Homo sapiens: one gene and its partners. The protein of the gene in region 1 purifies or fractionates together with the protein of each later gene. This does not show direct contact. Each region holds a gene or a part of one and is shown on either strand. Other genes may lie near its edges. The genes, in order: HSD11B1, RAB18, CDC42SE2, NHLRC3, DIPK1A, MANEA and GLB1L2.

What was found.
Region 2: the proteins of HSD11B1 (region 1) and RAB18 purify together in Homo sapiens (affinity purification with mass spectrometry, with the first as the bait; one large-scale study listed by BioGRID). This does not show direct contact.
Region 3: the proteins of HSD11B1 (region 1) and CDC42SE2 purify together in Homo sapiens (affinity purification with mass spectrometry, with the first as the bait; one large-scale study listed by BioGRID). This does not show direct contact.
Region 4: the proteins of HSD11B1 (region 1) and NHLRC3 purify together in Homo sapiens (affinity purification with mass spectrometry, with the first as the bait; one large-scale study listed by BioGRID). This does not show direct contact.
Region 5: the proteins of HSD11B1 (region 1) and DIPK1A purify together in Homo sapiens (affinity purification with mass spectrometry, with the first as the bait; one large-scale study listed by BioGRID). This does not show direct contact.
Region 6: the proteins of HSD11B1 (region 1) and MANEA purify together in Homo sapiens (affinity purification with mass spectrometry, with the first as the bait; one large-scale study listed by BioGRID). This does not show direct contact.
Region 7: the proteins of HSD11B1 (region 1) and GLB1L2 purify together in Homo sapiens (affinity purification with mass spectrometry, with the first as the bait; one large-scale study listed by BioGRID). This does not show direct contact.

Annotation. Positions count from the first base shown.
Region 1 is NC_000001.11:209,711,346-209,714,845, reverse strand, and holds part of HSD11B1 (11-beta-hydroxysteroid dehydrogenase 1), read right to left. Parts: intron 1-3,500. UniProt on the Homo sapiens protein: Controls the reversible conversion of biologically active glucocorticoids such as cortisone to cortisol, and 11-dehydrocorticosterone to corticosterone in the presence of NADP(H).
Region 2 is NC_000010.11:27,507,304-27,510,803, reverse strand, and holds part of RAB18 (ras-related protein Rab-18), read right to left. Parts: intron 930-3,500; coding exon 874-929; intron 1-873. UniProt on the Homo sapiens protein: The small GTPases Rab are key regulators of intracellular membrane trafficking, from the formation of transport vesicles to their fusion with membranes.
Region 3 is NC_000005.10:131,270,553-131,274,052, reverse strand, and holds part of CDC42SE2 (CDC42 small effector protein 2), read right to left. Parts: intron 1-3,500. UniProt on the Homo sapiens protein: Probably involved in the organization of the actin cytoskeleton by acting downstream of CDC42, inducing actin filament assembly. Alters CDC42-induced cell shape changes.
Region 4 is NC_000013.11:39,041,456-39,044,955, reverse strand, and holds part of NHLRC3 (NHL repeat-containing protein 3 isoform a precursor), read right to left. Parts: intron 2,852-3,500; coding exon 2,651-2,851; intron 867-2,650; coding exon 775-866; intron 1-774.
Region 5 is NC_000001.11:92,958,663-92,962,763, forward strand, and holds the start of DIPK1A (divergent protein kinase domain 1A), read right to left. Parts: upstream 2,801-4,101; 5' UTR 2,768-2,800; coding exon 2,714-2,767; intron 1-2,713.
Region 6 is NC_000006.12:95,576,346-95,580,334, reverse strand, and holds the start of MANEA (glycoprotein endo-alpha-1,2-mannosidase), read right to left. Parts: upstream 2,801-3,989; 5' UTR 2,697-2,800; intron 2,113-2,696; exon of another isoform or gene 2,024-2,112; intron 1-2,023.
Region 7 is NC_000011.10:134,345,488-134,348,987, forward strand, and holds part of GLB1L2 (beta-galactosidase-1-like protein 2 isoform b precursor), read left to right. Parts: exon of another isoform or gene 1-361; intron 362-1,837; coding exon 1,838-1,946; intron 1,947-3,500.

The DNA of each region.
Region 1 (3,500 bases):
ATGTCCCAAACCTGCTCTGTGACACAAACCTGTCCCATCCTGCTCAAGTTTTTCAATCTGTGCTGCCACCTTCCTCCCCGGTGAAGATGCCTATCTTGCTTGGCCTCTATGAGTGGCTTTTAGATTGAATTATTCAGAGCCAAGGATGCTAAAAAATGCTCGACAATGCATCAGACAGTCCCACACAATGAAGAATTGTCCCTCACCAAAGGCCAATAGTATCCTTATTAAGAAGCCCTGACACGAAGGCCTAGAAACAGAAAGGAAATATGGAGGGAAAATATGACTGTGAGTCTCCAACACAGTTTAAGGAAAGACATGAAGCCAGAAATCCAGGTACTAGCAAGCTATTTTATCATTTGTTCATTCAAGAAGAATGTGTTGATTATTTGCAAAATTTGTTAGCTCCAGGGAATCAGAGATGAATGAACAATGTGCCTGCCTTTAAGGAGAGCACAGCCTAATCACTGTGAGTAAAATGCTGTATTTCAACAGCTTTCAGAGGCAAGCAGTTGTAAAACATACTACTATTTTGTATACCAAGAAATAAAAACCCTTCCAATAGATCTGTAACATGATTTTTATCCCTTAGAGTGTTTGTTTTATGTTTGTTGCTACTTAGGTTGTTTCTAGTTTTTGTTTGTTTGTTTGTTTTTACAACTATAAACAATACAGTAACAACTTGGCTTACACTAGAATGTGGGTGCACAACAGGTATCTTGCCTTGGCCTTCTTGCTCCCTGCCATAGCCTTGGCATCTGGCATAGTGCCTGACTCAGAGTTGACCTTCATGCATATTTTTTGAATGAATGAATGAATGAGTATATTTGGGAAGCACTTGTTCAAGTTTGTTTATAGAATAAACTTCTCAGACATGAAGTTATGCTCTCTCTCCCTGACCATTCCTCTTGAAGTACTTAAGCAAATTTCTACTTATGGAAATCAATATAGGCAGCCCTCTGTATCCATGGATTTTGCGTCTTTGGATTTAAGCAACCATGGGTTAAAAATATTCAGGAAATAATTTTGTGTCTGTATTGAACACATACACACTTTTAAAATCTTGTCATTATTCCTTAAATAATACAATATAACAGCTATTTACATAGCATTTACATTGTATTAGGTATTATAAGTCATCTAGAGAGGATTTAAAGTATCCAGGAGGATGTGCCTAAGTTATATGCAGATACTATGCCATTTCATACAAGGGACTTGAGCATCCATGGATTTTGGTATCTGTGGGAGGTCCTGGAACCAATCCATTGAAGAAATTGAGGGTGTGTGTATATGATTATATTTAAAAGAAGGAAGCACAGCAAGAAGCAAATAATTTCTGAAATGAATTTCTCATAAAAGGTTATGAAAAGAGGCACAAAGCAATGGAAAAAACAACACACCCAACAACTTATTGAAATGTTTCTATGATTATAAAAGTTACACATGCATGCATACACACACAATGAAAATTTGGAAAATGAAGAAAAATATGAAGCTAAAAACAAAAATCATTCATTGTTCTGTAATTTAGATATAATCATGCTAATATTTTGGAAAATGTCCTTCCAGAGATATAGATACAGCTATGGATACAGATACAGATATAAATATAAATATATAGTACAACTAGTTATTTTCCTACTGCCAGACATTTAGGTTACTTCCAATGTTTTGCAATTTAAAAAATCCTACAACAAATGTTTTTGTACCTAAATCTGTGACTAATTTAATAGCTATTTCCTTGATATATTCTTGCACTTAGACTGGGTGAAATAAAGGAAACATTCTTTTTTTTTGAGATGGAGTTTCACTATATTGCCCCAGTCTGGAGTGCAGTGGTGCGATCTCGGCTCACTGCAACCTCCACCTCCCAGGTTCAAGCGATTCTCCTGCCTCAGCCTCCCAAGTAGCTGGGACTACAGGCACCCACCACCTCGCCCGGCTAATTTTTGTATTTTTGGTAGAGACGGGCTTTTGCCATCTTGGCCAGGCTGGTCTCAAATGCCTGACCTCGTGATCCGTCTGCCTTGGCCTCCCAAAGTGCTGGGATTACAGGCGTAAACCACTGCGCCTGGCCAAAGGAAACATTCTTAAGGCTTCTGGTACATATTTCCAAATTACCTTAGACAAAATGACAAATAAAGACCTAGACTTTAAAAAATACACAAAAATAAACAATTAAATGAATATAAGAATCATGCATTTTTCCTACTCTGAGTACAGTCATCTCTCAGTATTCAAAGGGGGATTGGTTCCAGGATCTTCTGTGGATACCCAAATCCATAGATACTCAAGTCCCTCATATATAAAATGATGTAGTATTTGCATATTACCTATGCACATCCTCCTGTGTACTTTAAATCATCTTTAGATTACTTATAATACCTAATTTGGTGCCTATGCCTTATATCATTTCTGTGAATTCAACATAGTACCCAGCATGTAGCAAATTCAAGTTTTGCTTATTAGAACTCTGTTAATTTATTTCCCCCCATTTTTTTTTGATCCACATTTGGTTGAATCCACAGATGTAGAACCCAGGCATGCAGAGTGCTGGCTGTACACTGATCTTGTCCTTTTTCTTTTCTTTTTCTTATTGTTAAGAAATTCAAGTGCCAATATTGAAGCTTAAGCACAGGATCTATACTGAGTCTAATTTGGGCACATTTATATTCTCCTTTTCTTAAGACCTAGTTTTCTATTTGTGTTTTTCCAAATAGAATGTATTTGTTGTAAGCCTTCTCAAACTCCTTGGTAAGGAAACGTAAAGATACAAATGATGGTAGAACCTTGCTATTTCCATCCACAAGTGCACTTGAATGAAACCTGTGGTCTAGCAGGGATAAGTAACCTCAACTACCTAAGTTCAGCCGAGCCTTTCCAGAAAAGAACATGAAGCAACAATGATTACGGGTAGCATTATATTATTCTCAACCTGCACTAAATTGTCACTGTCTTCATCAAAGAGTCTTCCTCCCTTTCAAATCTCCCCCACTCCTTTCTTTTTGGGGCTGATGCAGAACTGAATTCCTAGATAAATCTAGCAGATTCTGTCTCAATCCTCACAGTGTTGCCCAAACACGATCTCTTAAATTTAGACAACAATGATTATATTTTATAGAATAAATTTTCTGGAATTTTTATGCCCAGGTTGCTGATTTTACTCTGATCTCCTTCTTGGCATTCTTATAGGCCCTATGGATGACACGTCTACACAAACACATACCTCACCTCTGCGTACTTCTACCCATCCCCCCAACACACAGCTCAACCCTGTGCAGCCATCGCCACTCCCCATCCCTCATGTAAATGCTTACGTTCACATGGATAAACACTTCCACTCACCTCAGAAATCCTGGTTCCTGAAGATTATTTCTGAGGTAATTGGATTTAAGGGTAAAGCGGCATTTTTTCTTAGAAAAATGAGAACAACTGTGGCAAGGGATAAATTGCCCCTTTCCACTCTGGTTCTGAGGCCCGTTCATAATCTGGAGTTTGGG
Region 2 (3,500 bases), on another chromosome or scaffold:
CCAGTTAACAGAAACTCTTTATTTTCCCTAACAATAATGCTAGGATCATCTTTACTATATTCTCCTCATCAGATCATGAAATTTTAACAAAACCTCCCAATTTACAGATGAAGTTAGTAAGTTAAGTGACTTCATCAAGATTACATGTAATTCAAGGCAAAGTCAACCAAGACTATTATCTAGCTCTGACTCAGCTCAGCTACCTTTCAACTATTCCAAGTGGTCTCTTCATCCCTTTACGTTGTCTGCAGTCTAAACACATGATACCAAAATACTTACCTCTATCTTCTCATATATTCTCATAAGTTAGTGTGACTAACCACTTTCAGGCGATCTAAATCTTATCCTTAAAAGGCATTTAAGTATCATTGCTCCTAACAATCCTTAATAACTAGTATCAATACATATGTGAAGATAAGAATACACGTCAAACACTGTAGCAAATGCTGAACATACAAAATTAACACACTCTGTTAGGTCCACGATGACAGAGACCAAGTTTGTTATTCACTATTATAACCCCTCCTCTTAGTAGCAGTCCCTGGCATACAATAAGTATTCAAATAACTGTTGTATATTACAAAATAAAAGACAATCCATAGTATAGGAGAGAAATGTGTGTACAGATAATCACATTAGCAGTTTTAATAAAGTATCATGAGACAACAGATAAGGAAGTTATTTTCTCTTGGTAAGATCTAGAAAGGCTTCAAAGATTTAATGATACCAAAATTAAGTCTTGAAGGACAAATAAGATTTCAACAGACATGGAGGCAGTGGGGTGGTGAGAGGAAGGTAGAAGGATTTAGATTAAAAAGGCCAAAGGCAAGAAAATACTGGCCATTTCTATAGAATTTTTAAACACAGGCTTACCTATTGTTGCTGCAAGTTCTGGATCAAACGTATCATCTGTGAACCTCAAGAGCAGGCTGAAAGAGATATTAAAAAGACAGGTTGGGAACTTGAATTTTCTAATCATATGATAAATGTGTTCATGATTATTTGGTCACAAATTATTAGATGCAGATAAAAATAACTGATGTAGGCCTGTTCCTAGGAATACTGCCTCAGAGCAGGTATACACAGAAAAATTAAATTACCAGAAAGGCAATTTAAAAATCCCAAGAGCAAAGTAGTTTACTATGAAATATATTCCCCGTGCTCTCCTACACAATCCCCCAAGTACAAAAGGTGGGGGTTTTTGTTGTAGTTGTTTTTTAACTGTTCTGGTATGTCCTTCTGAGAAAATGATATTAGCAGCATGTCATGCTTTAACTGACATAGATGAAAAGGGAAAAAATAAAGTCTCTTAGAATGCAACAAACTAGCTTTAAAAAATCTGATTGTGTAATCCACTCTGAATTCAAGCAAAACCAGAAATATATCAAAGCCGAGCATTCTGTAACACGCAGTACGGCTACTACCTAAGAGAAGATACAGTAAAAAGAGAGGTTAAAAGAAAGATCACAGGACAGAGTAGATAGACTCGGGCAAACACTAGGTAGAGTGTGTAAAACCAAGTAGGCAACTGGAGGCTACTGGAGGCTTTTAAAGAAAGTTAAGACAAGTACTGCTCTTTGTTTTGAAAAGTTAATACTAACAAAAAATGGAAGAAAATCAATGGAAGACAACCGCCATGGTTATGGCAAGAGAGAACAAAGGACTAAACCTAGGAAATGGTAAGAAACTAGAAAGAAAGGATAAAAGCAAAAGACACCAGATTAGAAGGGTACTCTAAGATTTTACATCTTCCAGAATTATTTTACTTACTATGAAGCAGAAGTGTCAGTTATTAGAAACTCTTCAAAAATAAAATCTAAGCTTTTGTTAAAGCCCTTGATTTTAAAGTCATTCAATCTTCCCTCATGTTAACTTCTGAAGTATAAGACTCTCCTAATTGACCTGTTTGCATGAATAAAATCAAAGAAACAGCCATCAGATATCTAAATTATAGAAAAATCTTATGACTCTTTCTATAGGTTGTGATTATTGCTGGTAGAGGTATGTTTTGTCCATAGAGTTTCTGCAAAACATAATGGCCTCCTGGTAGTTTCCAAACCCAGTGTCATTAAATATATTTGAACGATTAACTCTCCCTTACTTGGTTTTGTTTTCTTGTGTTTACCATAAAACCAGCATCATAAAATCAAAGTAAAAAAGAAGAGTCAAATTCTAGATTTATCTACTTAACATCTTGACTATATTTAGTTACTTGGAACATAGGTAACAATACTAGTAAGACTCTTAAAGACTACCTATAAAATTTTTCTTCTCTCCCAACATACTCAGTTACCCATAATTTAAGAAAAGATACATAATATCTACACGTGGTCACCACAGAAAATATTACTACAAAAACATAAGATTACCTTGTAGACTAGTTGTAATAATATCATAATAATAATACAATAATGATGATATTGGGTATTATTTATTGAACATATGGCAATGTGCAGACACAAAGCCAGAGGTTTTTCTCTCATAATTGCTAATCCTTAAATGGCCTTTGTTATTAACAGTACTTTGTAAGGAGAGGCAGGGAATTGGTGGCATGGTGTGAAGCAACAAATTTTAATACAGGCTCTGGGTATACATCAGATCTTAGACAGGGGTACCCTGGTAGCCCAAAAAGTATTCTAAATTCTATGTGTGCATTTTTCTAGGCAGAGAGTCCATTTCTCTATTAGACTTTGAAAGGGACAGAGAGTCCATTTCTCTATTAGATTTTGAAAAGAACTGACAATCTCAAAATAATTAAGAAGCACACTTTTTTTTTTTTTTTTTTAAGAGAGAGGGTCTCACTCTGTCACCCAGGCTGGAATGCAGTGGCAGAATCACAGCTCACTAATCCTCCCACCTTAGCCCCCCAAGTAACTGGCATGACAGGTGTGCATCACCATGGCCGGCTAATTTTTTTATTTTTATTTTTTTAGAGGCATGGTCTCGTTATGTTGCCCAAGCTGGTCTCGGACTCCTGGCCTCAAGAGATCCTCCTGTCTCAGCCTCCCGAGTAGCTAGGATTACAGGATGAGCCACTGCACCTGGCAGAAGCACCATTCTTATAGTATTGTATATTTACACCCTCATATTTTCAAAGTTAAAGGAGCAAAATGTTTCCCATGCAGAAGTAGAGATGGAAGGAGTAACTACCACCATGGCACTTAGATGTGACCAAATTTATAATAAACAGAGTGTGATTATAACTAATCTGCATTTTTTAAATTTACATATGAAATTCACCAAAAAAAAAAAAAAAAGGGAAGGCAAGGGGCAAAGGAGGGACAGCAATTTAGATAATAGGTCTCTCTAATCCCTTCCAGTTCTTGATATATTCTGCTACTCTTTACCTTACCAGGCCTAGCCACAGAATTGGAGTCTTACACATTTAGGGTCTGAGAGGTTTCTATTCCAACCCCCTCGCTTTTGAAATGAAGGCCTACAGCATTCAAGTATCACACACAAGGTCACACAAGTGGCAGCCCCAGTTTCATAATCCTGAT
Region 3 (3,500 bases), on another chromosome or scaffold:
CACGCCTGTAGTCCCAGCACTTTGGGGGGCCCAGGCAGGCAGATCACTTGAGCCCAAGACCAGCCTGGGCAACATGATGAAAACCCATCTCTATAAAAATACAAAAAACTAGCCGGATGTGGTGGCACATACCTGTGGTCCCAGCTACTTGGAAGACTAAGGTAGGAGGATCACCTGAGCCCGGGAGGTCAAGGCCACAGTGAGCTAAGATCACGCCACTGTACTCCAGCCTGGAGGATGAGCAAGGCCCTGCCTCAAGAAAAAAAAACTTTTTTTTTTTTTTTTGAGACGGAGTCTCTGTCGCCAGGCTGGAGTGCAGTGGTGCGATCTTGGCTCACTGCAAGCTCCGCCTCCTGGGTTCACACCATTCTCCTGCCTCAGCCTCCCTAGTCGCTGGGACTACAAGCACCAGCCGCCACGCCTGGCTAATTTTTTTTTGTATTTTTAGTAGAGACGGGGTTTCACCATGTTAGCCAGGATGGTCTCGATCTCCTGACCTCGTGATCTGCCTGCCTCAGCCTCCCAAAGTGCTGGGATTACAGGCATGAGCCACCGCGCCTGGCCAAGAAAAAGTTTTTTAATTAAAAAAAAAAATAAGGCTGGGCGCAGTGGCTCATGCCTATAATCCCAGCACTTTGGGAGGCCAAGCTGGGCAGATCACTTGAAGTCAAGAGTTTGAGACCAGCCTGGCCATCATGGTGAAACCCAATCTCTACTAAAAATACAAAAATAAGCCGGGCGTGGTGATGGGCGCCTGTAGTCCCAGGTACTCGGGAGGCTGAGACAGGAGAATCACTTGAACCCAGGAGGCGGAGGTTGCAGTGAGCCAAGATCACGCCACTGCACTCCAGCCTGGGCAACAGAGCAAGACTCTATCTCAAAAAAAAAAAAAAATTATAAAAAAATGTAAAATATATATATATGTATATAATTCTAGCTAGACAGAATGAGATCACAGGGGACTAAAACTAAATATAAATATAGAAGAGGTCTAAACATATGTCCCTGAAACACTGCCTCATTTTTTAGAAGTTGGGGCAATGAAAAGGAACCAACAAAAGAAACTGAAAACAGGCAGTAATATGCCAGAAACAAAGGGAAGATTTCAAACATGATGTTATCAACCACATCAAATGCTGCTATTGCTTCTACATCCACTGAGATTAGGCTTGAGAACTAGGGAATTTACCACCAACAAAGTCACTCAATAATCTCAAAAAGAGCTGTTATGGTAGAATGAAAGAGAAAAAAAGCAGATTGTAGTGGATCCAAACAAGACAGGGAGCGCGGATGACAACAAATATTTACCTTTTTGGAGAGGAGTAACTAAAGGAAGATGTGGCATTTGGAAAGGTGTTTTTTTAAAGATGGGAGATATTTCAATACATCTATATGCTGATAGGGATAATCCAGTAGAAATGGGGAAATGATGCAGCTCATTAGAATGCAGGAGAATGAGATGAATACTGAAGCAATGCAATGTCCTTAAAAGGAGAAAGGAGCACGAGTGGAGACCATGATGACAGAATAGTAGGAAAGGCAAAGTATGGGTAAAGATACAAGGAGACGTATAAAAGTTTTATTCTGATCGCTTTCATTTTTAACATACAGGAAACAAGGTCATGAGCTGAAAATGAAGAGGAAAAAAGGGAGGCTAGAGGTTTGACGAGAGGTATTAAAAGTAATCTGTGGTGATTAAATCAGGAAACGTACTAGGATTACAGAAGGATTAGGCCAGGTGCAGTGGCTCACGCTTGTAATCTCAGTATTTTGGGAGGCTAAGGCAGGTGGATCACTTGAGGTCAGGAGTGAGAGTTCGAGACCAGCCTGTCCAACGTGGTGAAACCCTGTCTCTATTAAAAAAAAATACAAAAATCAGCCGGGCATGGTGATGGGCGCCTGTAATTCCAGCTACTCGGGAGGCTGAGGCAGGAGAATCACTTGAACCTGGGAGGCAGAAGTTGCAGTGAGCCAAGATCGCGCCACTGCACTCTAGCCTGAGTGACACAGTGAGACTCCATCTCAAAAAGCGAAAACAAAACAAAACAAAACAAAAACAACCAGCAACACAAAGGGCCCTCCTTAGGTCAGTGGTCATGAATTTAAAGGGAGAGCCAGGTCAGCTTGGGTGTGTTTTCCTCAAAGCATGCTCAACTTCCCAGATGTATGCTGGAACAGATGGAGAACTGGACACAAAGGGTGTGGGGGTAAGGGTTTGGCCAGGTGAATTACAACAGAAGAATGCCGCAAGGGAGTTGAATGTGTATGAAAAGGCAAAATTATAATAGTGGACCACAAATTTAAGGCAGGGTAAATACTCCAGTGAGGACATGGAAGGAGGTGGTCTTGGGACAGCAAAGAGGTGATGGCAGCAATGGATTACAGATCGCAGACATACAGAAGTACTGTTGAAGAAACGTTTACAGCCATCCCTCGGTATCCATGGGTGATTGGTTCCAGGAACCCTGCCCCACCCTGGCCCAAATCCCCAGATGCTGAAGTCCCTTACATACATAAAATGGCACAGTATTTGCATATAACCTAGGCACATCCACCTGTATACTTTAAATCATCTCTAGACTATGTATACCTAATAAAATATAAATGCCATGTATAATTGTTATACTGTAGCTTTTTACCCTTTTTGTTCTGTTTTTTCTTTTTAAATACTTTTTATCCTTGGCTGGCTAAATCCTCAGATGTGAAATCTGATGATTTGGAGGGTCTACTGCATTTTATGGAAGGAGTTGGAAAGACAGGATGCTGAGACCCCAGTGGAATTAATGAAATTGTGTCTATGAAATATCCTCAATAAAGCATGGGCAGTTCTGGTTAAAATGTTATAGAACTACCTTAAAGACTAAAGAAAAATCTCACCCTGGGCAAAGTGAACCTGCAAGATAAAGGAAACTGGAAGGCTAAATTGGAGCTGGAGAACTGTATCACAGGAATTATAGCTGGAGCTTCCTAGACATAGAATCCTCAACCACTTCCAGCACTCCTGAAGAAAGAGTCAGCTTTGCACAACCTCGCCAACTCAGAAGGCAAAAATGCCAGATCACAATCAGATAAGCCACAATAAAACTATACCTTCCCCCACCTTCCCCCCTATATCTTTTCTCTGTAATCCTAAGCTGCATCCTGAAGTGGTAGGAATACCATACTGAAGAAGACCTGGCAAAGTAAAAAGAGAAGCCAACTAAGTACGACTCTTCCTCCAAAACAAGCTTCTAGGTTCAAAGCAGTTTTGAGCCAAAGAAAAGTTCTGAAATCTACAAGAGTTTGAACACTACTATACTGTACCTTTTAATGACTAAAATAAAACTATTATTGACAAGTGACCAGAAGACTTTTTGTTACCTAAAAGTGACTTAAAAAGCTATCTGATCACGCTAAAAGCTCATCTAGAAGCAGAGAAAGACTTAGTCTACAGGGAGAGTTTTGAAGGCACAGTGAAAGTTGTATTTTGCTTAAACCTTACCAAGTTCCACCCATTAAAC
Region 4 (3,500 bases), on another chromosome or scaffold:
AGCACTTTCAACAGCCTGACATCTATTAGGGGAGACAGACAAATGATTATAATATAGCATGATAGTTACTATGATACGAAGTACAGGCTGCTATAGGAAAAGAGCAGGAGAAACTAATATACAAATTTTTTGGTGGCGGTTTCGTTGTGAAAAGGTAACCTCAAAGAAGTGAGATCTATGCTTAGAAATTGAGTAAATGCAAAAGAGATAGTAGTGAGTAGGGTAGAAAAGAGAGAAACTGATTGAAATTTGTTGGCTAAAGCTTTCTGTTCCCTAAACAATGTGGAGTTAGTGAGAACAAGAGTTTGCCTAGGTGACTCTTTTTCAGACTTCCAAGGTTAACCTCTCCCACTCCACTTTAGATCAGCACATTTTTTTCTTGAGAAGTGAAAAGATATTCAAACACTTTTAGTGGAGTTTTCCCAGTAAGAGGGCAACTTTTTCTTTCAGGTAACTTTATGTTCAGATCCATTATTTGTGCCTTCTATCCTTTTAAATGGTACAGGAAATCCATTTTGCTCCTTTCTAAATGTTTGGGGAACCCCCTCACTATAGGACTCAAACACTTGTAAGAAAGTATGTGTGCACACCCAGCCCCAGAGTAATTACCCAGACATACCCACTAACACACATGTATCCACATGCCCAGACACACATGTATACCACAATCTATATATACATGCCCAGACACACACACACACACACACACACACACACACACACACAAACATATTCAGACACAAAGTCCCAGACACAATGACGCTGTATTTGTACCCGACCAGCTGAATCAAGTGTAACACTGTGAGGTATGTTGAACTTAGCAGGCCCTGTCCCATTTTCTCCATGCAGCCAAAGGATCATGAAATCTATAAACGGTAAAAATATATAGTCAGAGCAACATATAGAATGTCTCATGCATTTGCATATTTTATGAAACAGGTTACAAAGAACTATTTAATTACACCGCTGGTTCACTTGACTATGCTTTCTCGGCTTTCCTGTCTATATGCCCATTTGCCCATTTCTTACAGTTTTTTTTTTAAAGTTCCTTCTCTGCTTTAGGGAATTAATCTACTTCTTTAATTATTATCTCCACTTGAATTTTTCATGACTGCTTCAAAATCATTGTTTAGGGTTTATGCCATCCTCTCCCTAAAACTGGTTCCCCTTCCCAACTTATCTGTTACTTGATATTAGTATTCCACAGACCTTAAAAATTCACATTATGATTTTACCGTCTATCTCCTTTATTACGCACTACGGTGGGTTCAACTGTGGTCCTTTAAAAAGATGTCCAAGTCCTAACTCCTGATACCTGGGAATGTGATGCTATTTGGAAATAGTTTTTGCAGATAAAATTAAATTAGGGATCTCATGAGATCATCCTGGATTTAGGGTGGGCCCTAAATCCTTATTAAGAGAAAGAAGGGAAAGACTGGAGGCACAAAAACACACAGAGAAGAAGGGGCCGCCATGTGAATATGGAGACAGACATCAGAGTTTTGCTGCCACAAGCCAAGGAATGCTTGAGCCACCAGAAACTAGAAGCGGCAAGGCAGGACCTTTAGAGTGAGCACAGTCTACCAGATTTCTAACTTCTGGATTCCAAAACTGTGAGAATAAATTTATGTTGTTTAAAGCCACGCAGTTTGTGGCAATTTGTTATGGCAACCACAGGAAACTAATACACTTATATTCAATCTGTCTCCTAGATTTCGTTGTTTCTTTCATTCAATTTTTTGGATTCTTGCTTTATCCTTATTCTACATTTCCCTTTCAACTGTTATCAACCAAATTCAGTTACTAATTGATAAATTGACTACACAGCCTCCAAATGACAGAGCTCACTTGAAGTAGATCCTAAAAGAATGTCTTATAAAACCTGCTGTTGTAACATCACTTTTCTACTAGGAAAACCTCAAAAATGTTATAGGCAAAAACATGGCTTTAATAATCCTCAAATAAGACTTCAGAAACATCCCAAATTGTATTTTCTGCTGCTGAAAAAGTGCATCTTCACCTTCTTTCCTGCTAATAAATGCCTGTAGACCATGCATGATAAACCCTCCATGAATGTTCCATCCATCCTCCCCTCTCCTCCCACCAAAACTAGTTTAGTTCAATAACTACTTCCTTCATGATATCTTGTTCTATTTCTCCAGGCAATTTAGTTTCTCCTCCTAAGTCCATTTTGCTTTAAGAATCAATAGCATAGACTACATTTCATTGTTTCAATACATAATAGATCTGCACCTCCTGATACTAGAGAGGACACAGAAAGGGCACTCAATAAAATGCTTGCTGATTAATCAGCCTGTAGGATACTTGAGTCTGGGATTCTAGGTTTCTAATTTCTACATGCTTAATTAAATAGGATACACACTTATCTCCTGAGCCCACTAGAAATTCTCATACTGTTGCCAGTTACTTTTGGAGGAATCTCCTGGCCTTTGGTGAAGAATAAGTGGGCCTGTTATCAGGATCATTTATTGTGGGCAATCATACCCATCTGTTTTTCAGTTTTCTCGTAGTAATACACTTAGCTCTTTACACACCGCTTCATACACAACACTTAAAACATTATACCAAATATCGAACAAATTAAAATCAATTTATAATATTTTTATAATACCATAAACAAGTAATGTACCTTGGGACAGTTTGATCAATCTGTTATTCAATCCTCCATCTCCATCCACAATGTAAATATCTCCTGTGTCCTCTACATATAATTCTGCTGGGTTATCAAACTGCAAAGGATTCAAACTAGTGCCTTTTTTGCCTGGAGTACCCAAGACTTGAACAAGATCACCAAAAGAACTGTATTTTTTAACAGTATGACCAAAGAATCCTATAAAGATAGATATGTACATCTCACAAATAAAACCACTATACAAACATTCAGATTTTTCAAGTAAGCTAAGAGCAAAAATTTGATAGAAGTAAATAATAACAAATAGGTGATAGGCTTAGGAAATTACATATAATTGACAAGCACTATAGCTTCTTCGTAAATTACAGCCAAATTTGATCACGAATTAAAATCTCCATTAGTCCAAAATAAGCGGATTCTAAATTCAAATAAATAACATCCCCATAATTGACTCATTATACAGGAAACTCAGAATGCTAACAAAGTATTGGTGCACCATTTTCTTTTTTAATCTTATGACCTTGAATAAGCATTGCTTATGAAAGGAAATCAAGAAGAAAATGTAAAGGGAACAACTTATATTTGAAACTGTTATTTCAATCACTCACATACAGACCTTAAATTTCAGTAAGTCAACAAAAACGTTCTCTATGGTACAGATTTTTTTTTTAACTGCATTTTCACCTTGTGGAGACATTCAAAATTCAACCCAACTTTTCTTTGCTAAGAAGAAAATAATCTTTGTAAATCATGAGTATCTTATTTTCTCACGTTAAAATTTCTTTAAGTTAAAATTATCTTACAAGCAAGAGCATAAAGCAGACTACTAATAAGGGAATATCATAAA
Region 5 (4,101 bases), about 120 Mb from region 1:
TCTAAGACATTCTTTCAAAACATGAAATCAAACTAGTTTCCCTCATAAGAATTTGTGGCATGAATGAGCTGATAAGAGGAGGGTTTTTTGTTTTGCTTTTTGCAGAGAGACCCATCCAAATCACAGTAAACTCACTCCATGGCAAATCAAATTTAGTTAGTAATCTCAGGTTGATGCATATCTAGAAAGGGGTGGGAAAAATAAATTGTTATTAACTTTGTTAGGCATGATAATGGTATTATGATTATGTCTGAAAATATCTTTATCTATTAGAAATGTATATTGAGGTACTGAGATGAAATGATGTGATGCCTGAGGTTTACTTTAAAATACTTTGGTTCAGCCAGGCTTGATGGCTCATGCCTGTAATCCCATCACTTTGGGAGGTCAAGGCAGGAGGACTGCTTGAGCCCAGGAGTTTGAGACTAGCCTGGGCAACACGGCGAAACTCCGTGTCTACAAAAATTAAAAAAATTAGCTGGGCATGGTGGTGTGCGCCTGTAGTCCCAGCTTCTCAGGAGGCTGAGGTGAAAGGATTACCTGAGCCTGGAAAGTCCAGGCTGCAGTGAGCCCAGATGGCACCACTGCACTCCAGCCTGGGCAACAGAAGGAGACCCGTCTCTAAATAAATAAATAAATGAATAAATAAATAAATAAGTTTGGTTGGAAGAGGGAGTGGGGGAGGTGAAATGAAATAAAATACTGATGAGGGTGGCTGATGGGCATATGACAGTTCATTATTGTTTTCTGTTTTCTGAAGGTATACAAATTTCCACAGTAAAACACTTTTTTTTTTTTTTTTTTTTTGAGACGGAGTCGCACTCTGTCGCCCAGGCTGGAATGCAGTGGCACGATCACGGCTCACCACAAGCTCTGCCTCCCAAGTTCACGCCATTCTCCTGCCTCAGCCTCCCGAGTAGCTGGGACTACAGGCGCCCGCCACCACGCCCGGCTAATATTTTGTATTTTTAGTAGAGACGGGGTTTCACCGTGTTAGCCAGGATGGTCTCGATCTCCTGACCTCGTGATCCGCCCGCCTCGGCCTCCCAAAGTGCATGAGCCACTGCGCCTGGCCGTTTTTTTGTTTTTGTTTTTGTTTTTAAGAGGCAAGGTCTCACTCTGTTGCCCAGGCTGGAGTGCAGTGGCGTGATCTCAGCTCACTGCAATCTCCGCTCCGGGGCTCAAGCCATACTCCCACTTCAGCCTCCCGGAGTAGCTGGGACCACAGGCACCCAACCAACTTTTTTTTTTTTTTTTTTTTTTTTGTATTTTTAGTAGAGGCGGGGTTTCACAATGTTGCCCAGGCTGGTCTCAAACTCCAGAGCTCAAGGAATCAGCCCGCCTCGGCCTCCCAAGTGCCGGGATTACACGTGTGAGCCATCGCGCCTGGCCGGTAAGCTTTTTTTTAAACTCACATAAAAGATTACACAGAGGTACCTGGCCTGGGTTGAATTCTAGAAGGGGTTGTGACAGTGTTACTCAAGTGCACAATTACTATTGGTGGTGCTTGCTACAAAGACTCAGTTTTATTCGTACACGCTTAATATCATGGGTTGTCAAATCATGCTTCCAATTTGCAATACGTCACTCATTTCAGGGTAATGACTTACACATACAATTTTCAAACAAAAATGTAAGATTTACTTGCCTCATGATGGTTACCTTCTCAACTTTTTTCATAATTTATAAAAGCACCAGCTGACCCCAAATCATCTACCTCTTGGCCTTTTAATGTAAGCGGTAAAGGAATACTGTCCTCTGAATGCAGCGTTGGCTAACACTGCTGACCCACGCAAGGCATTGATTTGTAGTTGTTTTTCCATCGGAGTGATGGATTTGCGCTCAGCTACTCGCGGTGTCTACTAGGTCCCCCTGGTGACCAAACAGTACACTTAGGCAGTAGTAGGGTTCCAAGGCACAGACTGGCAGCGGAACAGAGGGTGGAACGGGAAATCATGAAAAATTAACACGCGAACCGTACACACGACATGACTGAGAATTACGTTTGCATTACTAGGGTATTTGGGATCCACAGACCAGCCACTAGCCCCTTTCCTTTAAAAAGCAAACACCCATCCGCCTGGTTCAGGCTTATCGGTCTCCACCTCCCATTTAAATCTTGGGTGTGATGGAACGACCCAACCAAGGGGCTCGGCACGAGGCACACGCTGCTTTTTGGAGCCTGGGGAAACACTGGTGTGACAAATTGTCATAATTTTCTAAGACACGGAGGAATGCTACACCACCTTTCCTACCACCGACTTAAGACCCAAGACACTGAGTCAAGGGCAACCGACCTGCGGGGGCCCACGGGGGAGGGGGGAAAGCCCCGAAAACACCAGGGAGAAGGCGGCCCGTCGAGCTCCGCCTGGAGCGGCGCAGGGCTGCGGGCAATGCCCGGAGCGCGGGGTCGTACCCAGGTCACGTCTCGGGGCTCTCAGGATGCGAGGGCGTACCCGGGCGGGACGACTCGGGCCCTGGAGCCCGGCTGGCCGCGGCGCGGGAGCCGCGAGGGCCGCGGTGGGGGGCGTCGGCAGAGCCGCTGAGGGGGCTGGGGAGGGCGCGCCGCCAGGTGCCGGACGGCAGGGGGCAGCGGGGTTCGGGCGGGCACAGACCCAGGGAGGGAGGAGGGGAGCGGGCGAGTCCTGCGCGGCGCGGCAGGGCACACGGCCGGGTGCTCCCGCAGCTGGTGGCTGGGCGGCCGCCGGCCTACCTGGAGGTAATAGGGTTTCCTTAGCCAGGCCCCCGGACAGAGACTCCTCGCCATGGTAATCACACATCGCCCCGCCGCGCTGCAGTCAGAGGCGGACCCGAGCGCTGGCGGCCGGGCTCCCCGCCTCCCCCCGCCTCCCCGCCCCCTGCCCGGCCGGGCCCGCCCACTCCCCCGCCCCCGCCGCGGCGCGCGCCGCGCTCCCCTCGGCCCGGCTGCAGTGAAGGCGGCGAGAGGCCAGAGGCCCAGCCTCCTGCCCTGTTCGCCCGCCGGCCGCCGCGGCTGTCAGAGAGGCTGCTGCCGACTCCGCCATAAAGGGGAGTCGCACCTCGCCTCCGCCGACACAAATCGACTGCGCCTGGAGCTTAAAGGGGAGGCGCGCGGAGGCGGGAGGGGGCGCCGCGGCAGCGGGGGTGTCGCACGCTCGGCGCGGATTGGGGCGTGCTTCTCGCTGGCTGATGCGGCGACCCCCGGACCGCGCTGGCCTCGCAGTCTGCTCCGGCTTCCGGCTCCCCGCGCTGCGCCCAGCTGCGCGTCCCGCCACCCGCCCCGGCAGCACCGACGCTCCCCATGGACTCTTCTCCTGGAGTCAGGACGTGTCTGGACGGGTTGTTTGGAAATTCAAGGGAAGCTTGGGGCTCCTTCCCTGGGGACTGGCTCGTCCTCCCTCGCCCTTGGTGGCGGTCGGGGGAAGGGGGTGTCTGCCGCAGCTGGAGACGCAGACCGGGGCATCCCCCCAGGACTGGGCTCAGCTTCGAACGCGGACAGGGCGCCCCACTGCTGAACTCGGTGCCCCCCTTACCACGCTCCAGTTCGCCTCTAACGGCCTACAACTTTTTTTAAAAATGTACTTTTAAAAAATTCCGACTTTTTTGGTTTATATTGTTTTTAAGACAGCTTCAGAGTTTTCCTGGCCCCGTCCAGGAACACTGATTTCAAAAGAAAACAAAAACAAAAACACCGAATTAAATACAGTCCTGAAGGCAGGGAGCCTGGGACGTGGCCTGCTGCTTGGTTAAGGCTACATAACACAGGGTGTGGTGTCTTTCTTTTGACAATGAGTTCCAAATAAGGGAAAAAAGAGCCACCCTAGTGGGAGAACAGCTGTTGATCCAAGTGACTTGTAATGGAAGAAGCAGCTTTTTTTTTTTTTTTTTTTTTTTTGGCTGCTTTTTACCCCACCTACCACGTTTAAGCGTGATGCTAACAAAGTTTAGGTGGCCCGTTAGAGCTCATTCCGGCCTGTTGCTCTGAGAAGGGGTTTCCCCAGAAGCAAACCATTACTCATTCTCACTTGGTTTTTGCATAAGCCTTGTTCAGGTGCCTTGTTCTGAAGAGATACCTTCATGTCTGCCCCTTCCCTCAACCCACACACAGACACAGGTTTTAAA
Region 6 (3,989 bases), on another chromosome or scaffold:
GAGCATAACATATCTTTCACATAGTGTTCATTAAGTGTTCAGCTTTAAAAAAGTTAATTTCTGGCTCTTTGCTGTTTCATTGGTATTCAGGCAGTGTGTGTGTATATATATATATGTATATCTGTGTGTGTGTGTATATATAGACTACTGACCGTATACACACTTGATAAGTTTACGGTGTATACTGAACATATTATAAAGAATCGTAAAGATCCAATAATTTTAAAAATCCAATTTAATAAAAAAAATCATCTTCAACGCTGTAAAACCACAATGACCCTTGAGATGCCTAAAATGTCTGATCTTGCAGGAAAGGGGTGGAGGAACTAATTTAGCTTCAATAAAAGAAAAGTATTATAAGTCACCATAGAGAAAATATTACAAGTTTATTGCAGATATATCTTTCCAAGGCAGGGACCTACTCAAAGTATTGGCTACTGAAAATCTGTTTTCTCCTCAAAAGACTGTTTACATTACTCATACACAATAGGTTCTTTTGAACCTGTAGCTTCTATTTTTTGAGTTTTGTGCTTTTAATCCTTTGAAATGCTGACTTGAAGCTTAGTGATGTCTAATAAAAAATTATTGGACATATCCAGCTAGCTAAGAGACCCCAAGAGATTCAGAAGCAGGGTGGTATGAATTAGTACTTCAAAAATTATTTGCTTTTATCATGTAACTCACAAAAGCCAAAAAGACTTCCCTTTCAATTAACTAAATTAAATCACACAGACTTCTGGTGCTTTTTTTAAAAAATATATTGTTTTCTTCTAATTTTATTTTGTATGAAGCCACCGGAGATAAATATAACTCAATACTAGAAGACACATCTGGAACTTTCAAAATCAGTTTCAAAATCAATCCTTGCCCAGGTCAGTTTTATTGTAAACACTTGTACCCTCTGGTTAACAGAAATTCAGTGAGGTTTAGTTTCTGTTTTTTGTTTTGTTTTGTTTTGTTTTTGAGATGGAGTCTCACTCTGTTGCCATGCTGAAGTGCAGTGGCGCCATCTTGGCTCACTACAACCTCCACCTCCCGGGTTCAAGCGATTCTCCTGCCTCAGCCTCCAGAGTAGCTGGGACTACAGGCGCACGCTACGACGCCCAGCTAATTTTTGTATTTTTAGTAGAGACAGGGTTTCACCATGTTGGTTGGCCAGGATGGTCTCGATCTCTTGACCTCATGATCCACCCACTTCGGCCTCCCAAAGTGCTGGGATTACAGGCGTGAGGCACCGCGCCAGGCCGCAGAATTTTTTTTAACCTCATTTTACAAATGATGAAGCTGAGCAGTTGGTAACTTTTTCAAAAATCTCTGGGCCAGCAAATGGCCAAGAAACCAATCTAAGGTTAATCACCTAGCAAGGAGCAGATCGAGTCTGGCTCAAGAACTCAAGTTCTTGTCCATGCTATTCTGCCTTCCTTTAAGGTATTAGACAAATCAAATTTAGAGGATACACCAGTTATTTTTGTGACACAAGATGAAAGCTGCTGCTATATGGTTATGTTTTCAATTAAGGATTATGTACCTAATAAACAATGATTAACTGTTACCTACTCCATAAACTGTGCCCAAACTTCATCTAAAGACAGCTTATTCTATTTTATGATCATACATTCACTATTCGTCACACGAATAACAGCAACAGCTCTGGAAATGGTGTTTTCATTGTTGTGATTTTTTGTTTTGGGGGGTGTTTTTCTGCATTGAGCCTGAAAATCCACAAATTCACAGCACTCATGTTTTTTTCAGGTGTGATACACCTGAAATAGATGTATTGTCATGAAAGTGATTTGCAAACAACGTGATACAGTATCACCAATATCTAGGTTTTACTTTATATTTTTGTTTCAAACTACTGCCTCAATACTTTAACGTGAACAGCCTATTCCAGTCCCATTTTTCTTATTTTCAAGTTCTTAATCAACATTATCCCCCCCTTGTTGTTGTTTTATAGCACTTCCACATTTTCTCCTAACACTTATCCGTAGGGTCTTACAACAACAAAACCAAACAGTTATACCTGCCTGTACTTCAAGTTGCTTCTTTGGAAAAAGGAACAACAAAAACACTAATCCAGCACTGTTGCATCCCGACTTAGCAAAGGCTAAGAGTCTAAGATGACAGTGCCAAACACGTTAACAGGTGAACTGAAAAACCATCTCTAGCGGCCTCGCCATCGGGCGGTCTCCTCCCGATGCCCAGAGGCGACAGCTACCTTTCCGTTGCACCCAGAGCCCAGCAGGCCTCGATCCTTCTACTCTCCCGGTCGGCTCAAGGCCCAGAGGCAGTCTGGGGGCACAAGGAGAAGGTGCTGAAAAAGGCTTCCATCCGACCCGAAATTTCCACCTTGTCGGGGAGACAAGGAAAATCCGAGGCGACAGGAGGTACCGTTTCAAAGAGGAGGCGGCGACGAGGCCAGTGAGGTGGGGATAAAGCAGTGTAAAAGGCAGTAAAACTAACGCAGACTAAAACAGGCCTAAGAGTGACAGCCTAGGTTAATCGAGGGGGCTACAGGCTCGCCGCTGGGCGCCACCAGCGCCTGCCAGAGGGGCGCCGGGTCAAAGGGCGCCCGGAGGAAAGCGGCCACCAGATTGGCTGGCGGGCGAGCGCGCAGGCGCCCGCGGTGGACCTCGTGCCTGCCGCCGCTGCTGGCGCCGCCGCCTCCAAGAGGTCTGACTCCTGCAGCTACTCACCAGGGTCGGGTAATTCACTTCTTGCAAGGACTCGGCCAGAGGAGAGGTTAAGACCGCGAACATAGAGCTGACTGCCGCCGCGCCCCGAGCCCAGACAGCCCCTCCTCCCCGAAGGCGCGCGCACAGCGTTCCGGGCGCTTTCAGGGGCGGGACGGGTGGGGGCGGGGTCACGGAGCGGGCGGGGCTCGGGGTCTTCCGGAGCCTCCGGTCGCGGGTCTAAGAGGACTAGGGCGGGAGCGGCGCGGAAGAAAGAGAGGACTGCGTTTTGGGGCGTTCTGTCAGAGGGGAAGGACGTGTGGATTGGAGTCAGACTGCACTCCCGCCCTATTTCTGCAAGTAGAACTCACTGCCTTTAGAAACGGTCTTCTGAGGCTCTGTTGGGAGGCTCTAACTGTATTACAGAGGACACATTTTTGTTTGTTTTTATGTGAAACATTCAGAAGTTGCTTGCATCAAGTGCTTTACAAGTACACTGGTTTTCAAACTTTTAAAGTTGAGGAACTGTTTTGATTTTTGTAAAAATAGAACTTTACTTGGAAGCCCAAGGTAGGCAGATGGAGATGGCGTTTTTAATTTGCGAATGTATTCTATAAAATCACATCTGTACTGAAGTACTAGAAATAATTGAGGATAAGTCAGATGTGAAGAGCAAGAACTTTTGAAATAGGATTACAACTGAAGGTTTCCATCTTACATTAGCTTCAGAAAACAAGAAAATGCTATCTTTTGTTTGGTTACATAGTAACAGGAAGTCCTTATTCAAGCTAGAACTTGCTGATGTGAACAGTTTCATAAGGGCTCTCCTTAAAAAGATTTTGTACACCAATTTTAATTGGGAAATATACATATGAGTATATCTCATGTGCATATCTTAAAGAAGAATGAAAAATGCCCAGGTACCCACTACAGAGCTTAAGAAAAAAAAAATGCCAGTATTTTTGGAGTCTTCTAGAAAGAAGACTCTCTAAAAACATCTCCTTCCTTCCGTTCACCATTATGCTGAATTTTATATTACTCATTCCGTTGTATTTCTGAAAATAGTTACATATGTACGATTCCCTAAAAATACTATTTTCCTAGTTTTATATTTCATATGTGAATCATTCTTCATTTTTCCCCTTTTTTCACTAATTTAGGTTTTGAGAGGTTTTGAGATTCGTCTGTATACAAGTCCATTTCCCATAAACTAGACTGGCACATCGTTACCCTTATGCTATTGTTAGACTTTTTAAGTTTTTGCTGATAAGAGCATCTGATTGCTCTTTTAATTTGCATTTTCCCTTTTGCTAAAGC
Region 7 (3,500 bases), on another chromosome or scaffold:
TGAGACAGAGTCTTGCTCTGGCACTCAGGCTGGAGTGCAGTGGTGTGATCTTGGCTTACTGCAACCTCCGCCTCCCGGGTTCAAGCGATTCTCCTGCCTCAGCCTCCCGAGTAGCTAGGGTTACAGGTGTGTGCCACCACGCGCAGCTAATTTTTGTATTTTTAGTAAAGACAGGGTTTCACCATGTTGGCTAGGCTGGTCTGGAACTCCTGACCTTGTGATCTGCCCACCTCGGCCTCCCAAAGTGCTGGGATTACAGGCATGAGCCACCGCGCCCGGCCTTCCCTATCTCTTTCTTAGGAATGTTACCAAGCATATTTTGAAAAGTCCAAGTATTTTGATAAAGTATAAGAGAAACAAATTCTTGTTATGGTTTTGTCTTCCTATCTCGGCCCACGTGTGTCATCTTCCCAGTGCTAGTCTTGGCTGAGTTTGGTGTTCTGTGGTTGGAGTGGAAATCTGGACAGGAATCAGCTGGGACTTCATTCATTCCTCATCCTCAACATTGTGGCCTTTAAGATTTTCTTGTTAACTGGTGTAACCTTTCTCAGCCTCCCAGTGTACCAGGTGGTTAGACCCAGACTGCCTCAGGGAAGAGGCTGATCCTTGTCCCCAAGCCGTCTCCCCTCCCCTGGTCCCTGGGGAGCCCTGGGCTTCTTTTCCTCCTGGTTTCCAGCATGACCCGCCCTTCCCTCGGGGGCATAGCTTCTGTCTCCACTACCCAGGGCCACTTCTCAGGCACTGATCCATCCAGCCTGGTAGGCTCACCCTAGTCACGAACACAGCCAGGGCAGCCTCTCCCATCCCTGTGGATTAGAAAGCTGTGTGCCACCGTCAGCGATTTCCTCGGCTCAGCCGGGGCCGGGCACAGGAGGACGAAGGGTTTAACAGTCTTAACTTAGAAGCAGTGGGGAGCTGTGGCACTCAGACTCCCCCTTCTCACCCCGCCCATGTGGCACCTGGCCATGCATGAGAGGGGCATGTGGGCACACCTGCGGAGGGGGCGTCCGGGCGTGAGTGAGAAGGCTAACCTGTCAGGTGGGGTTAGAATGTGGGGGTGTCGGTCTGGAGGAAACTGCTCTCTCCTCACCCCTTGTTTGACCCACAGAAATGGGATAATTTCCTGACCCTGTTTAGGACTTCCAGACCAGGGCAAGAGGAGCCTCAGAGCCTTTTGTTAGAAAATATGTGTCTTCTCAGAACCTGAAGTGAGAAGGAAGAGCCCTGACTCCAGCTTTGGAACCAATCCACGCTGCTGTGTTCCTCTGGGGAGTTTGGGATCATAGCAACAGGGTGGAGGGAGAATTCAACTCTTGCTCACCTGCTGCTCTGGGCTGTGCGCCACTGATGCCAAGGCGTTAGCCACGTTGGCAAGGATGGGGACTGCCTCCTGCTCAGCCCCTCGCAGTCTCTGTCAGGCTTGTTTTTTGGGGTGACGCTAGAAGGTTGTGTCTCCTCCTTCCACAGCCTCAGTGATTCCTAACCCTTTTGACTTCACTTTTTGAAATGGGATCACAGAGCAAGTTGTTGAAAACTAGGCCTGGAGTCCTGTGAAAAGCTTTTCTCACTGCTGGCAGCCAGGCCCTGTAGCTGTGGAGCTGGAAATGAACTTCCACCAGGCTGTGTCCTTGGGGAGGGAAGCTGCAGGAGTGCGGGTGGGTGCTCGCCCCAGAATCGGTTTGCATTGTCTCCCCACTTCTGGGCTCAGTGGGGTGGAGGAGGGCACAGGTCATTCTGGAGCACTGGGGGGCCTCTCCCTTCTCACGCATCAACAGCCTGCTCACAGCAAACCCACTGTGACACTAACATCCTTCCTTTCCCCCGTTTACACTTCAAGCTGGCTACTCCAAGACCCTGGCATGAGGCTGAGGACAACTTACAAGGGCTTCACCGAAGCAGTGGACCTTTATTTTGACCACCTGATGTCCAGGGTGGTGCCACTCCAGGTACAAGCAAATGGGGTCTTCTTTGATCTTGGTCTGTCTTCCTCTAGGTCGTGGATCATCCTTGGTTAGTTCTCAGACCAAGGGTCCTCCAGTGTTTTGAACACACGAGCAGGCTCTTCCTCACCGTCCGAGACTCGTAACTGAGGGGCTTGCAAGAGTTGTCTTTGGAAAGATCTGTGCATTTCAGTGTTGTCTCACTTGGGTGCGTTACTGAAAGGACAGACAGATGTAAGGGCTCACATTGCCACATACAGCACTGGAGAGACAGGGATGCTGTGATAGCCGGGAACACGCATCCACTGGCATCTCCATGGTTCCACAGAGACAGGGATGAGGTGATAGCCGGGAACACCCATCTATCTACCAGTGTCCCAGTAGCACTGCGGCTCAGTTTTGCACAGGGTGGAGCACATGTGGATTAACCTTTGCCTATAAGACTGCAGGACTTTTTATAAATTATAAAATTCCTTTCGCTGACTTTACGAGATACTTCCCTCTGCTACCAAAAAGGTGCTGCATGGTACACACTTACTATTCAAAACATGCGTTAAAGTACGTTTTGGGGGAGGAAGTACCTTAATATTTTATATAATAATTGGAAGCTTTGGAAAGCAGGAATGGGAAAAATCAACCCAGTTGCTGTGTAAAACCAGAAAGAACGGCATTGAGAAATTAGTACATCAATAAAAAATTAGTTCAAGTCAGTGGTATGGAATACTCACCACACACATAAATCAAAGGGAACTGCCAGATGAAACACAGGATGCTCAGTTATATTTGAGTTTCAGATAAGCAAGGAATAATTTTTTAGTGTAAATATATTCCAAATATTGCATGGGTCATACTTACACTAAAAAATTATTTGTTGTGAATTCAAATTTAACTTTATGTCTGGTATTTTTGTTTACTAAATCCGGCAGCCTTAACCATGACAGAAGCAAGGAACTAGGAAGTCATTAGCCTAGATCTTGCTGGGAAGCTGGGGATCAGCAGGTTGTAGGAGTCGGGTGGGCAGCAGGATGGCCGTCCTGGGAGCAGGCTCAGAGGCACTTGCAGACGTGCAGCGGGTCACCAATGCATCTTTTTGAAATAAACGATAACATAATTATTATTATTTAACATATTTAAATAATCACATAGTTATTTAATTTTTGTGACTATGGGATAGTATACATAACATAAACTTTGCCATTTTAACCATTTTGAAATGTACAGCTCAGCGGCATTGAGTCCACCCACACTGTTGTGTGCTCATCTCCACAGCCTTAGTTCAGGCTGCCACAACCAAACACCTAGACTGAGTGGCTTACAGACAAAGAAATTCATTTCTCCCAGTTTTGGAGAGTGGGAAGTCCAAGAACAAAGCACTGGCAGATTCGGTGTCTGGAAGGGCCCCCTTCCAGGGCATATACGGCCATCTTCTTGATGCAACCTTACATGGCAGAGAGCGTCAGAGAGCTCCCTGAGGTCCCTCTTATAAGAGCACTAGCCCTGTTGGCAAGGACTCTATGCTCATAACTAATCACCACCCAAAAGTCCCACCTCTGAATACCG